Linked DNA regions of Homo sapiens: all the other regions are linked to region 1. The links come from fine-mapping of genetic effects on gene expression. A gene starts in region 1. Each other region holds a variant in brackets. All regions are shown on one strand. Distances are from middle to middle.

What was found. PIP is the estimated chance that this variant, and not a neighbour inherited with it, causes the effect.
Region 2: its variant is fine-mapped to the expression of OSBP2 in fibroblasts (GTEx, PIP above 0.99). The same link has a PIP of 0.9 or more in adrenal gland, neural progenitor cells and spleen.
Region 3: its variant is fine-mapped to the expression of OSBP2 in whole blood (INTERVAL, PIP above 0.99).

What each region holds. Positions count from the first base shown.
Region 1 is chr22:30,693,035-30,697,222 of GRCh38, forward strand. OSBP2 (oxysterol binding protein 2) reads left to right here and starts at 1,840. Exons shown (of 14, transcript NM_030758.4): 1 at 1,840-2,519. The coding sequence starts at 1,876. RefSeq lists silencers at 1,513-1,592, 1,977-2,026.
Region 2 is chr22:30,715,824-30,719,823 of GRCh38, forward strand. The region is part of intron 1 of OSBP2 (oxysterol binding protein 2); the gene reads left to right. Among named protein-coding and RNA genes, the nearest start is that of MIR3200, 14 kb to the right of the region's middle. RefSeq lists an enhancer at 1,025-2,224. The variant G/A (reference allele first, on the strand shown) is at 1,623.
Region 3 is chr22:30,869,885-30,873,884 of GRCh38, forward strand. OSBP2 (oxysterol binding protein 2) reads left to right here. Exons shown (of 14, transcript NM_030758.4): 3 at 545-798. LOC105372994 (a long non-coding RNA gene) reads right to left here. Exons shown (of 3, transcript XR_007068062.1): 2 at 3,193-3,327; 3 at 3,006-3,090. Among named protein-coding and RNA genes, the nearest start is that of MORC2-AS1, 50 kb to the right of the region's middle. RefSeq lists an enhancer at 2,842-3,342. The variant T/C (reference allele first, on the strand shown) is at 2,220.

The DNA of each region.
Region 1 (4,188 bases):
TTATCATCATTATTTTGAATCGGTGAAACATACACACAGTGAAACATACACAGTAAAACATACAAAAGGTTCAAAGTGTGAGTGAAAAGCAAGCATTCCACCTCATTTCTCAGTTGTCCAGTTCTGTCCCCCACTACACCCCAGAGGCAATCACTTTTCCTTGGGGGGACTCACCATGCTGAAGTTTGAGGGTCACCGTCATACATATGAGATAGACCAAGATGGGGGGCTCTCTGCACTCCAGAGCTCACAGCAAAATTGCAGGTAAGACCACCATTCAAAGACAAGTGCCTGAGGAAGGGGTCTCAAAGTCACCAGCAAAGATGCCAGCGGCTCCTGCTCAGTGCATGTCTGCACCTCCTATTTCTAGGACCTTCCAATCTGCTTCCTTCTGGGGACCACTTCACGTAGGAAGCAGTCCCTACACAGGTTATCTTGTCACAAGCAAAGATCAGGAATGGATAGGTGGGTAAGGGGAGAGTAAGACGTGATGGTGAGCTAAGAGGAGTCTGCAGAGAGGTCTAAGCTTGAAAAGTCTGGACAGAAACCCAATGTTCAGTCTTTCCATTTGTATTTCTGATTATTTGTAGTAACCATCAACTTTCGTCATTTGGATAGATTCTTAAGAAAAAAAAAAAATCACTGATGGCTGGGCACAGTGGCTCACGCCTGTAATCCTAGCACTTTGGGAGGCCGAGGCGGGAGGATCCTGGCCTGAGGTCAGGAGTTCAAGACCAGCCTGACCAACATGGTGAAACCCCGTTTCTACTAAAAATACAAAATTTAGCTGGGCATGGTGCGGGCCGTGGAATTCCAGCTACTAGGGAGGCCAAGGCAGGAGAATCGCTTGAACCTGGGAAGCGGAGGCTGCAGTGAACCAAGATCACGCCACTGCATTCCAGCCTGGGCTACCGAGTGAGACTCAGTCTCAAAAAGGAAAAAAAAAAAAAGCGGAAAAAAAAATTCGCTGATGTTTTAACCATTCTGGGGTCACAGCCTCCTTTGTTATGGACCTACTCTGGAAAAATGCACAGACAGGTAAACCTCTGCGGAAGCCTCACAGACTGCCAGCCTACCCAGGGATCCCGGGAGGTCCAAGTTCAGAATCCCACTTTGAGATGTTTCTTGTACTAAAACGCTTGGTTTACAAAAAGTCTTCCCCTATTTGTTTAGAGAACCCGAACGATGTCGTCACTGGCAGCGAAGCGCCTTGGCATGAACCGTAGGCCAGCTGGCTCAGGAGGTGGAGGCGGTGAGGCGGCCACTTGGGGCCACCGCTTCTGGCGGCCGCAGGAGCGACCCACAGACAGGTAATGGCTGCCATGGGGGGCGGGGCGTCGTCTTTAGCCTTTAGCGCCCCTGTGCTTCGTGCGCATTTCGTGGCCTCTGGGTGCCGTACCTGCTTCCCACCCGGCTTTCCTGGGTGGCGGAGAGCGAACCCACCCCAGCCTGGGTTGGGGGAGGGGGCGTCGGCGCAGGGTCCCGTGGGCAGAGCTGCGCTGGGAGCTGGCGGGCTCCGCATTCATCATTGTTCCTCCAGCGCCTGGCACGGCTGGGCCGAAGCAGAGACCGTGGCCTGAAGCGCGCCATCCCCTTCGGAGTTGACCGACCACCAAGCTCTTCCGCCCACAGGTGTTGTCAGAGCTCCTTCCACCGGCCGGACCTAGGAAGGACCCAGGGTCCAAACATGGCCCGAGGCTGGCCGAGAGCACAACAGCCGGCGGGCGCTGACGGGCACGGAGCGCACGGGACCGCGGAGGAACCCGCGCGCGCCCCCGCCTCGCGCCGCGCGCACGTGACTGCGCCCCCGGCCCCGCCCCCGGCCTGCCCCCCGCCCCCACTGGCCGCTCGGCCGCGCGCGGGTCGGCCGGCTCTATGGGGAAAGCGGCGGCTCCGAGCCGAGGCGGCGGCTGTGGCGGCCGCTCCCGCGGGCTCTCGTCGCTGTTCACGGTTGTCCCCTGCCTGTCGTGCCACACGGCGGCGCCGGGCATGAGCGCTTCCACGTCCGGCTCCGGGCCGGAGCCCAAGCCCCAGCCCCAGCCCGTGCCCGAACCGGAGCGGGGACCGCTGTCAGAACAGGTGTCGGAGGCAGTTTCGGAGGCAGTGCCAAGATCGGAACCTGTGTCCGAGACGACGTCTGAGCCGGAGCCAGGGGCTGGGCAGCCATCGGAACTGCTGCAGGGGTCGCGGCCGGGGTCAGAGTCAAGCTCAGGTGTAGGGGCTGGGCCCTTCACTAAGGCCGCATCGGAGCCGCTCTCCCGGGCGGTGGGGAGCGCGACCTTTCTCAGACCCGAGTCAGGATCGCTGCCAGCGTTAAAGCCCCTGCCTCTTCTGCGACCAGGACAGGCGAAGACTCCTCTTGGGGTTCCAATGTCGGGGACTGGCACGACCTCCAGTGCCCCACTGGCCTTACTGCCTCTGGACAGCTTCGAGGGCTGGCTTCTCAAGTGGACCAACTATCTGAAGGGCTACCAGCGCCGCTGGTTCGTGCTGGGCAATGGTTTGCTCTCTTACTACAGGTATGGAAGCGCCAGGGTGGGACATGGGGGTTGGAGGGTGGTGATGCTGCAGGGATGGTGATGGAGGGCCTCCATGGTTGGCGGACACTGCCACTAGTCTAGAGATGTTTAGGGGCATGCATTCCAGCAGGCCAAGTCACGCTTCTGGCCCGCCGCCAAGGGCCGGGGGCCCTGACCTCTGGCAAGGGTGAATGTGATCTGCGGACATGACCTCTGGCAAGCTTGGGTTTTTGGGCAAGTGGGGAGGTGGAGTAAGGGAGTGATCTGGGGCCTCAGTTCCCTTCTGCTTGGCAGTTGTGGGGCTTGGGGCAGCTAGCTAGAGTCAGCCCCTCAAAGTCCTTGCCCTTTCTGGTTCGGGAGCTAACATCATTGTGTGTTTGGGATTGAGGGAGAGAGTCACCTTGTTCAGTCCTTAGGACCCACACTCTTAGGAAGGGCTGCTTATTCTTCCCGCCTGGGGCAGTTACTCCCACCTTTCCTGATGCCTCTGGTTGCCAGGCCTTGGGCTGGGCACCACAGACTCACAGATGTATTGGACACGGTTCTTGGCCTTCAGGAGTCCATCTTGGCATTTTGCGGAGAGCTAGGAAGTGTTTTGCTGCCCTCCTTTCTTATTCCAGACCCAGCACGGGATTCAAAATTAAAGTCCAGTGGTGAGAGAGCTAACACTGTCTTCCCACTGAAACTGGTTGAAAGGAGGTTACTGAAGCCTCCCTTTGCTTTCTTACTGGCTCTTCCCTGGGTCTGCTTCCTGGGGATGGTTGGTTTAAGCCTTGAGAACTCAGATCAGTCTATGCCAGTGGTTCTCAAACCTGAGTGTGCATCAGCATTCCCTGAAGAGCTTGTTGGAACACAAAGTGCTGGGCCTCCCCAATGAATTTCTGTTACAGTGGGCCTAGGGGAAGGGCCTGAGATTCGGATTTTCTAATAACTTCCCAGGCGTGGCTGGTGATGCTGGTCCAGGACCACACTCTGAGAAGCACTGTTTCATTGCTGCACACAAAAGGACCTTGACTTGCTGTTGCTGAAATTCAGGTCACTTCACTCACTTCATTCAGCCAACAGTATCCCTTCAAGTCACCCACTACAGGGTTTTGTTTTTTGTTGTTTTTGTTTTTGAGACGGAGTATTGCTCTGTCGCCCAGGCTGGAGTGCAGTGGTGCAATCTTGGCTCACTGCAACCTCCGCCCCCCAGGTTCAAGCAATTCTTCTGCCTCAGCCTCCTGAGTAGTTGGGATTACAGGCGCCCGTCACCATGCCCGGCTAATTTTTTTTTTGTATTTTTAGTAGAGATGGGGTTTCACCATGTTGCCCAGGCTGGTTTCGAACTCCTGACCTCAGGTGATTCGCCTGCCTCGGCCTCCCAAAGTGTTAGGATTACAGGCATGAGCCACCACACCGGCCTCTCCTGTCTTACAAATGAGGAGTTCTGAGGTTTGATGGGGAGACACAGAGCCCATTATCCAAAGGCACTGGCCCAGTAGACGGTAGAGAGGGATTCTGAACACCAACATCTGGACCTGTCCCAAATGTGTCCTGATACCCACTCACCTTTGAGTTCAGCATGTCTGTGTTACCTGTATTTACCAGGTACTACTAAACTGAAGAGTTAAAGGTAATGTTTATAAGTATAGTCTCCCACAGTGGCAGAAATGCCTGGTTTTAGTGG
Region 2 (4,000 bases), 23 kb after region 1:
TGGGATTATAAGCATGAGCCACCACACCTAACCTTTTTTTTTTTTTTTTTTTAACACAGGATCTTGCAGTGTTATCCAAGCTGGTCTCGAATTCCTGGGCTCAAGTGATCCTCCCACCTCAGCCTCCCAAAGTATCCCACCTCAGCCTCCCGAAGTATCGGGATTACAGGCCTGTGCCACCATGCCCAACCACAAGCATCTTTTCTTTCTTTCTTTCTTTCTTTTTTTTTTTTTTGAGACAGAATCTCGCTCTTGTCGCCCAGGCTGGAGTGCAATGGCATGGTCTCGGCTCACTGCAACCTCCACCTCCTGGGTTCAAGTGATTCTTCTGCCTCAGCCTCCTGAGTAGCTGTGATTACAGGTGCCTGCCACCACACCCAGCTAATTTTTGTACTTTTAGTAGAGATGGGGTTTTGCCATGTTGGCCAGGCTGGTCTTGAACTCCTGACCTCAGGTGATCTGCCTGTTTCAGCCTCCCAAAGTGCTGGGACTACAGGCATAAGCCACCACACCTGGCTGAGCATCTTTTCATATGCTTGTTGATCGTTTGTATAACATCTTTAGAGAAATGTCTGTTCAAATCCTTTTTTTGTTTGTTTGTTTTTTTGTTTTGTTTTGTTTTTTGTTTTTTTGAGACAGAGTCTCACATGGTTGCCCGGGCTGGAGTGCAATGGCTCAATCTCGGCTCACTGCAACCTCCGCCTCCCAGGTTCAAGCAATTCTCCTGCCTCAGCCTTCTGAGTAGCTGGGATTACAGGTGCCCACCACCACGCCTGGCTAATTTTTTGTATTTTTGTAGAGATGGGATTTCACCATGTTGGCCAGGCTGGTCTCGAACTCCTGACCTCAAGTGATCTGCCCGCCTCAGCTTCCCAAAATGCTGGGATTACAGGTGTGAGCCACCATGCCTAGCCCCTTTGCTCATTTTTTAATCATTTATTTGATTTTTGTTGTTGAGTTGTAGAAGTTCTTCTTACATTCTAGACATTAACCCACTGTCAGATATATGATTAGCAAATATTTTCTCCTATTCCATAAGTTTCCTTTTTACTTTGTTGATTGTGTCCTTCAAGGAACTTAAGTTGTGTCCTTCGATGGAGTCCCATTTGTCTGTTTTTGCTTTTGTTGCCTGTGCTTTTGGTGTCATATCCAAGAAATCATTGCCAAATCCAATGTCATGAAACTTTATGCCTATGGTTTTCTCTAGGAGTTGTACAGATGTTACATTTAGGCATTTAAATCTATTTTGTTTTAATTTTACTGTTTTTGTGTGTGTGTGTGTGTGTGTGTGTGTGTGTGTGTGTGTGTGTAGAGACAGGGTCTCGCTATGTTGCTCAGGCTGATCTTGAACTCCTGGCCTCAAGTGATTCTCCTACCTCAGCCTCCCAAGTAGCTGGGATTATAGGCAAGAGCCACTGCACCTTGCTGGGTCTTTAATCCATTTTGAGTTAATTTTTGCATATGGTGTGAGATAAGGGTCTAACTTCATTCTTTTGCACAAGGACATCCAGTTTTTTCAACATCATTTGTTGAAGAGACTGTCCTTTCCCCCACTGAGTCATCTTGGCATCCTTGCCAAAGATCATTTGACACAGGGAAAAAATCAAGGCCTTTTGAAAAAC[G/A]CCTACACTAAGGGGAAATGACACATGTTTTACTGTCCAGCTGCAGCTGTGCCATCCAGGACCAGATGGGAAGTTACATCCAGGAAAGTGGACCTCTAGAGTCCCTTCTCACATCTCTAGGCTTTGCTCACTAGCTATAAAGCCCTGTACTTACAAAAAGAATGATTGCCATAGCCTGTAAGAAAGCAGATGGAAGTCAAAAGCAGATCCTTAGGTTGATGACAAAGATTGCTGGTTGAGACTCTTATTTTGACACTTAGAGTCTCCTTATTCATCTTCTATTCATCTCAAATATGTGCCAACATGACTCCCCCTCAGGACTGGCCTCATCTCTGCCTCTCCAGCATCATCATCTCCTGCTGATCCCTTGCTCTACTCTGACACCTCAGTGACAATGGGTTGTGTGTGCATTCTGACAGGCGAGGGTGGGCGGGAGTTAGAATCGAGTCCTCAGCTCACCTGTCCTCCTGGATCAAGCAACTTCAAAACACATTGCCCAGTGGTGATTTAAACTCTGAGGTTAAAGCAGCAGTGGTTTTCTCTTGCTTGAGGGTCCGCAGATGACCAGGCCAGGTCTCCTTCAGGCAGTGGCACTTGGGAGTAAGCTAGGAGGTGTGTCTTCCTGTTGTGATGGCAGAAGTACAGGAGGGTAATCGAGAGTCACAGCATCCCAGCTTGAGCCTGCACACCCTCACTCCATTCCACATTCCATTGGCTGAATCAAGGCATGTGGCCCTGTCCAATATCAGTAGGGTGGGAAGATATCCATTCCCCATTTTAGAGGATCCTACAAAGTCCAGTGGCAAAAGTTGTGCACTTAAAATTGTAGTTCAGGGATGGCAGAAAGAAACAGGAGAAATGCTTCAGTCTGTCACAGCCTCTAACCTCCCTTCTAACGATCACATCCTTTAGCCTCTTTATCTATAGAGTGAGAGGACTAGGCTAGGTGATGTCTGGGGTTCTTTCTATCCTTACCTTTCTGAAAATTTGATGGGAAACCATCTGGAAGGAGGAGGAGGAGAGATGAGATATAAAAGATGACCTGTATGCTTGGCACTGGGCTTGGCACATCAAAGGACTCGGGAAATGTCTGTTGACTTAATGGCTTGGAGATCTGAGTCCAGGAGGCCAGGAATCTGGTGACTGACCTGGTAGGGAAAGAATGGGGGATGCTTTAGCTGGGCCTCAGGTGTTCACTGGCCTTCCTGCCCCTGGGGCCACAGGCCCTGGGCACTGCTGTTGGAGTTGCAACTTTACAACTTCGGAGTTGCAGTGACAACATCCGGGTGCTTGTCTCCCCCTTTTTTTTCCCCCTGCCAGTACTAACAGATTTGTTGCAGAAATGGCCTGGGCCCTTGCTCCTGAGCCCTGGGGCAGCATGGGAACAGGGCTGATGGTGTGTTCTGGTTCTCAGACTTGGGAGCCTTGCGGGCAGACTGAGTGGGGACTTTTTGCTGAGTTGTTCATGCACTGTGACAAGAAAGGCACCTTCTTTGAATTTTTTATTTTCAGAAAATAAAATTATTTTGCTAGATACAGGCATGGAAGCAATTTTCTTCTTTTGAATCCTGCAGTTCTTCTGAGTTTGAATTTATCTGTCAGCTTACTGAGCCTTTGCCTTCTAGAGACGGGATTAGAGTGTTCTTAACCTTGAGCTGATTCCCGCTGTGCCTTCTCTCCAGCCTGTACTTACCTGAGTGCCTCGCAGTCCTCTCAACATTATCCCTGGCTTCAGGCTGCTGCCCTCCTCACTCCCCTTCTCTTTCAGCCTTAGTTTGTGCTCGGTGGCAGTGTGTGTCATTATGTGTGCATGTGCAGCTGTGTGGCAGGACCAGTAGCTCATGTTTTGTCTGTTCCCTCCCAGAAGTCCCAGCCCACAGTAAATCAGTGTTCAGTAACTGATAGCCAGCCACACACTGCAGAGATGTGCCATGAATGGGAAGCTGATTAGATTTTCCAGGGCCCTGGAAAAGTTGCCTGGTGTGGTGGCAGAAGAATCTCTAGGTAAGGAACTTAAAAGTCACCAAGGCCAGGCACAGTGGCTCACACCTGTAATCCCAGCACTTTGGGAGGCCAAGGTGAGTGGATCACTTAAGGCCAGGAGTTTGAGACCAGCCTGGCCAACATGGCAAAATCCCATCTCTACCAAAGATACAAAATAAGCCGGGAGTGGTGGCGCACCCCGGTAATCCCAGCTACTTGGAAGGCTGTGGCATGAGAATTGCTTGAACCAAGGAGGCAGAGGTTGCAGTGAGCTGAGATGGCACCACTGCACTCTATCCTGGGCAACAAAGTGAGACTCTGTCTCAAAAAAAAAAGAAAAAAAAAAAAAGTCACTGAGCCAGAGCCAGGATAGCTTGAGGCCAGGAGTTCAAGAC
Region 3 (4,000 bases), 180 kb after region 1:
GCGCTCAGGCCTTTGCAGGGAACAGGGGACAGATTGGTGTGGCTGGGGGATGGGCATGAGCAGAGAGCAAAGTGAGGTTGACTGGACGGGGGTGATTGGCTTGGGGTAGGCCTGCGATGCTGAGAAAGGAGCCCAGGCTCCATTCTGGGGGCCTCTGTGCCCAGAGAGCAGTCTCCACCTCTCCACCCAGCAGAGCCCATCCTTCCCTGCACACCACAATGTAGGGAGCTGGCGCCCTGCATGCAGGTGGGTGCCTGTAGGCCTGCCGCCTCCAAAGCCCAGTCCCGGCCCTGCCATTCAATCTGGGCTCTCTTTACAGTCCTTCCCACTGACTCAGGTGGGCCCTTGCCCACCCCACCCTGGGAAGGCTGGGCCAGGATGGGGCAGGCACCTCACCCCGGCCAGGAACAGGAACGGGCACCATCTCGGGGACTGATGTTTTTTGAATGGCGCTATCCACCCTGCCCTGCTCGGCCTGGCTGTGCAGGCCTCTTGGTACCACGTCTGTTCGTAATGACCGTAACAACTCTATTTTCTTCCACAGATGACTCTGGGGACGACGACGAGGCTACCACCCCAGCCGACAAGAGCGAGCTGCACCACACCCTGAAGAATCTTTCCCTGAAGTTAGATGACCTCAGCACGTGCAATGACCTCATCGCCAAGCACGGCGCTGCACTCCAGCGCTCCCTGACAGAGCTGGACGGCCTCAAGATCCCATCTGAGAGTGGGGAGAAGCTGAAGGTGGTGAATGAGCGGGCCACCCTCTTCCGCATCACATCCAATGCTATGATCAACGTGAGTACCCACCCCCACCGCCCTGGCACGGGGCTCCCTGGCTCCAGCCCCGGGGTCCCTCGGTGGGTGACCAGGGTCAGCTTGAAGGGTCAGCGTTCCATTTCCTGCGGTTCCACGGTGTTTCCCAAAGCCAGCGCCCCCCAGCTAGCTTCCGAGTTCTTAAATCATCTCCTTCACTCGGCCGTCGTTGGGCAAGGACATTCTTCCTAATTGTCTGGAGGAAACGAGTTGGTTGTGGACTCTGGTGCAGTCTGCAGTTATTTACTTCATGCCTCGATAAGGAAGGTCGGGGCCCCAAGTTAAGTAGCTAGCCCAGCAGGTCAGTTCTGCCCACACAGTAGGGACACAGCTGCCACACTGGCCCTCGGTGGCTGCTACTCCTCCTCCCTGGGTTCACTCCCCAGATGCAGTGGGAGCAGACGCTGTGCACAACAAGGGGAGGGTGTGGTGGGGGGCTGCAGTCGAGGGCTCCCTGAGCTAGAAGGGCCTCAGAGCTGAGCCTGCCGAGGTCGTGCCAACCTGATGGTAGACAAAGCAGGTAACCGCAGTTGTAAACTAAGCAGCCCCGCCACAGGAGTCAGCCGCTCACCCTGGCTCTGGAAGCCACACGGCTAGGACTGGGAGCCAGGAGGGTGTCTCGATGGTGGTAGGAGGATAGTGCTTGGCCCTGCTTCCCTCTTTCTGTCTGGGGAGTGTTCCCCAGAAGTGTGCGTGCTCCTCCAGGCCTCCACCCTCCAGACACAGGTCTGACTGCAACAGCCTCCTCCCAGGACAGTCCCCCAGGGCGGCACATCTGGGCCAGGGGTGCAGTTGTAGGAGCTTGGGGTGGCCTGCTGGGAGTAAGGAGACCAGAGCAGAGGAGCTGTACAGAAATGGAGGCCGCAGAGGAAGAAGTGAGGTCCAGAGAAGGGGGTTCAGGAGAGTCATCGTGCTGGCTGGGGACAGTGGGCAGTGCTGGTGCCTGGGTGACCTCCAGCTGGGGGACCCAGCCCCCAAACTAGGAGGTTAGACCAGGGCCGGACTGGGAGCTGGGACCAAGCTCCAGGCCCCGCAAGAAATGCAAGGGCAGGGTGGGAAGATAGAGGCTGGAGCTCACCGCAGGCCAAGAGCCCAGGCTAAAACCTGGGCATCCAAGACCTGCCCCAAGCCGGCTTCACTGGCCTGTTGGCAGCATGATTGTGGGGCAGGAGGGCCACCCCACCACCCACACCTGCCCAGATATGCTCAGGCTCAGGCCTGGAGCACCCAAATGCAGCCTTGGGAATCCCACCCTGGGGCCTGAGGCTGGGCGAGGTGTGCCCCCCTTCCCGACTGCTGGGAAACTCAGCCTGCAGGTGCCCACCCGCCTCAGCTCAGCAGGTGTGTGCACCTTGTCCATCCCAGATCCCACAGTGCTGGGGGGTGGGGGGCAGTTGGCCCCA[T/C]ATGCCAAGGATGCTGAGAGGCTGCTGGGCCACCCTGCGTGTTGGCCCCATTGTCACCTGCACTGTTTTCCTACATCCACCCTCTCAGGCCCACTGTCCTCCTTACAGCCCACAGACCAGATTGCTGTACTTCTACCAGGGACACACACAAATGTGAAGCACTGAATGACATAATAATGCGTTTGTATTTCCCTGTCCCTCCCAGAAGCCACTGCCGGAGGCTTCCCAGGCACTGCCTCCCTACCCGAGACCAAAACTGCTTTGTCTTGAATAAGCAGTTTTGGCTTTTCCGAGATAATGAGCGTCTCAGCTGGCTGCCGTCTTGCACAGTCTTTTATCAGACATCAGAGGCTCATCTGTGTTTACGAAGCCATCAGAACAGCTCCAAGTTTAAGTGCCTAATGAATTGTTTTATGAGAAGCACAACCCCCTGGGGTTGGTCACGATTCCTTTCTGCAGCTCCAGCATCCGGGGAACATGGCGGCAGAGTCAGCCCTGAGTGACGGAAGCTGTGCCCTGGGCTGGGTTCTGCCAAACCTGCTGGTGTTAGCCTGCCATGAGGGCCCCTCCCCAAGCTCCTGCTGTTGAATCAGGGGCAGGGAGGGCAGGAGTGCAGTGCTGCCCCGACAGACTGTGCTTGTAGCCCAGGCTAGCCCAGAGGCTTGTGTTTCCCCTGGGGACCCTTCCTGACAGCCACTCCTCGCCTGGCAGGAACCGGGGTAGTTCTGGAAAGGCTGTTTGCGTGGCTCTCAGACACCAAGGGTTCAGCCCCCACTGTGTGCAGAGGAGCCATGTAGGCAAAGCCGGCCACTTGCCTGAAGGTCGTGGGATACAGGCATTCCCACCCTTGGCCAGGCCTTGGCTTTGGTACCTGTTAGGAGAAGGTGTTGGACCAGGGCTCTGTAACTAGAACATCCATGCTGCTCCCACCTCCAAACCTCCAGGGAGCCTATTCAGGCACCAGACCACTTACCCCTTCCAACAGCCTGGTTAGCACCTTGAGGGATTGTTAGTGTCAACGTGGAAACTGAGGCTCAGGGAAGTCACCAGCATAACCCAGCTGGTAGGTGGCCATGCCAAGATACATGCAAACCCAGGTCTGTGTGGCCTGCAAGAGAAGTGATGGCCCTCATTCTCTCATTACCTCAAAGAGGTAAGGGTGACCTCCTTGGAGGGTTGCAGAGGCCCCCTCCTGCTGTGGCTACACACCAAGGCCAGGATGCGGGGCAGCCTCACCCGCACCCTGGGCGGGATCCCAACCTCAAAGATCTCCGTGAGTCCCTGGAGTGTCTTACCTTTCAGCTTCAAGGTATCCTCTGGTCACCATGGCTGCAGCCCCACCAGGGCCCCTCCTGGGAAGCCAGGGACTTGGATATGGAAGCCACGCACCGCAGTCCCCAGAAGGTAGAAATCATCACCCCCAATCTCTTCCGATCTCACAGTGAGAGGGAGCTGCTTCTCCCACTGTGGGGGCCCCACTGCAACTCCATCCCACTCCCCAGCCCCATCCTGACTGTGATGTGTGCGGGGATGCTCCTAGCATCCCCTAGCGCCCGTGCCTGCATTAGGGAAATCTCTACTGCCACTGGCTCCTCGGACAGGGCAGACCCTCTTCCTCGTGAAATGCTGTGTGTTTTCCACTTTGTGGGCTCTGATTGAGCCGGATCGTAGAAGTGGAGCCTAAAATGAGGGATGGCTGGCCAGACAAAGCCCACATGGAGGGTGTCCTTCACAGCGCGCTGGGGCAGGCAGCTCTCTTCCTACAGGGACAGGCTGGCTGC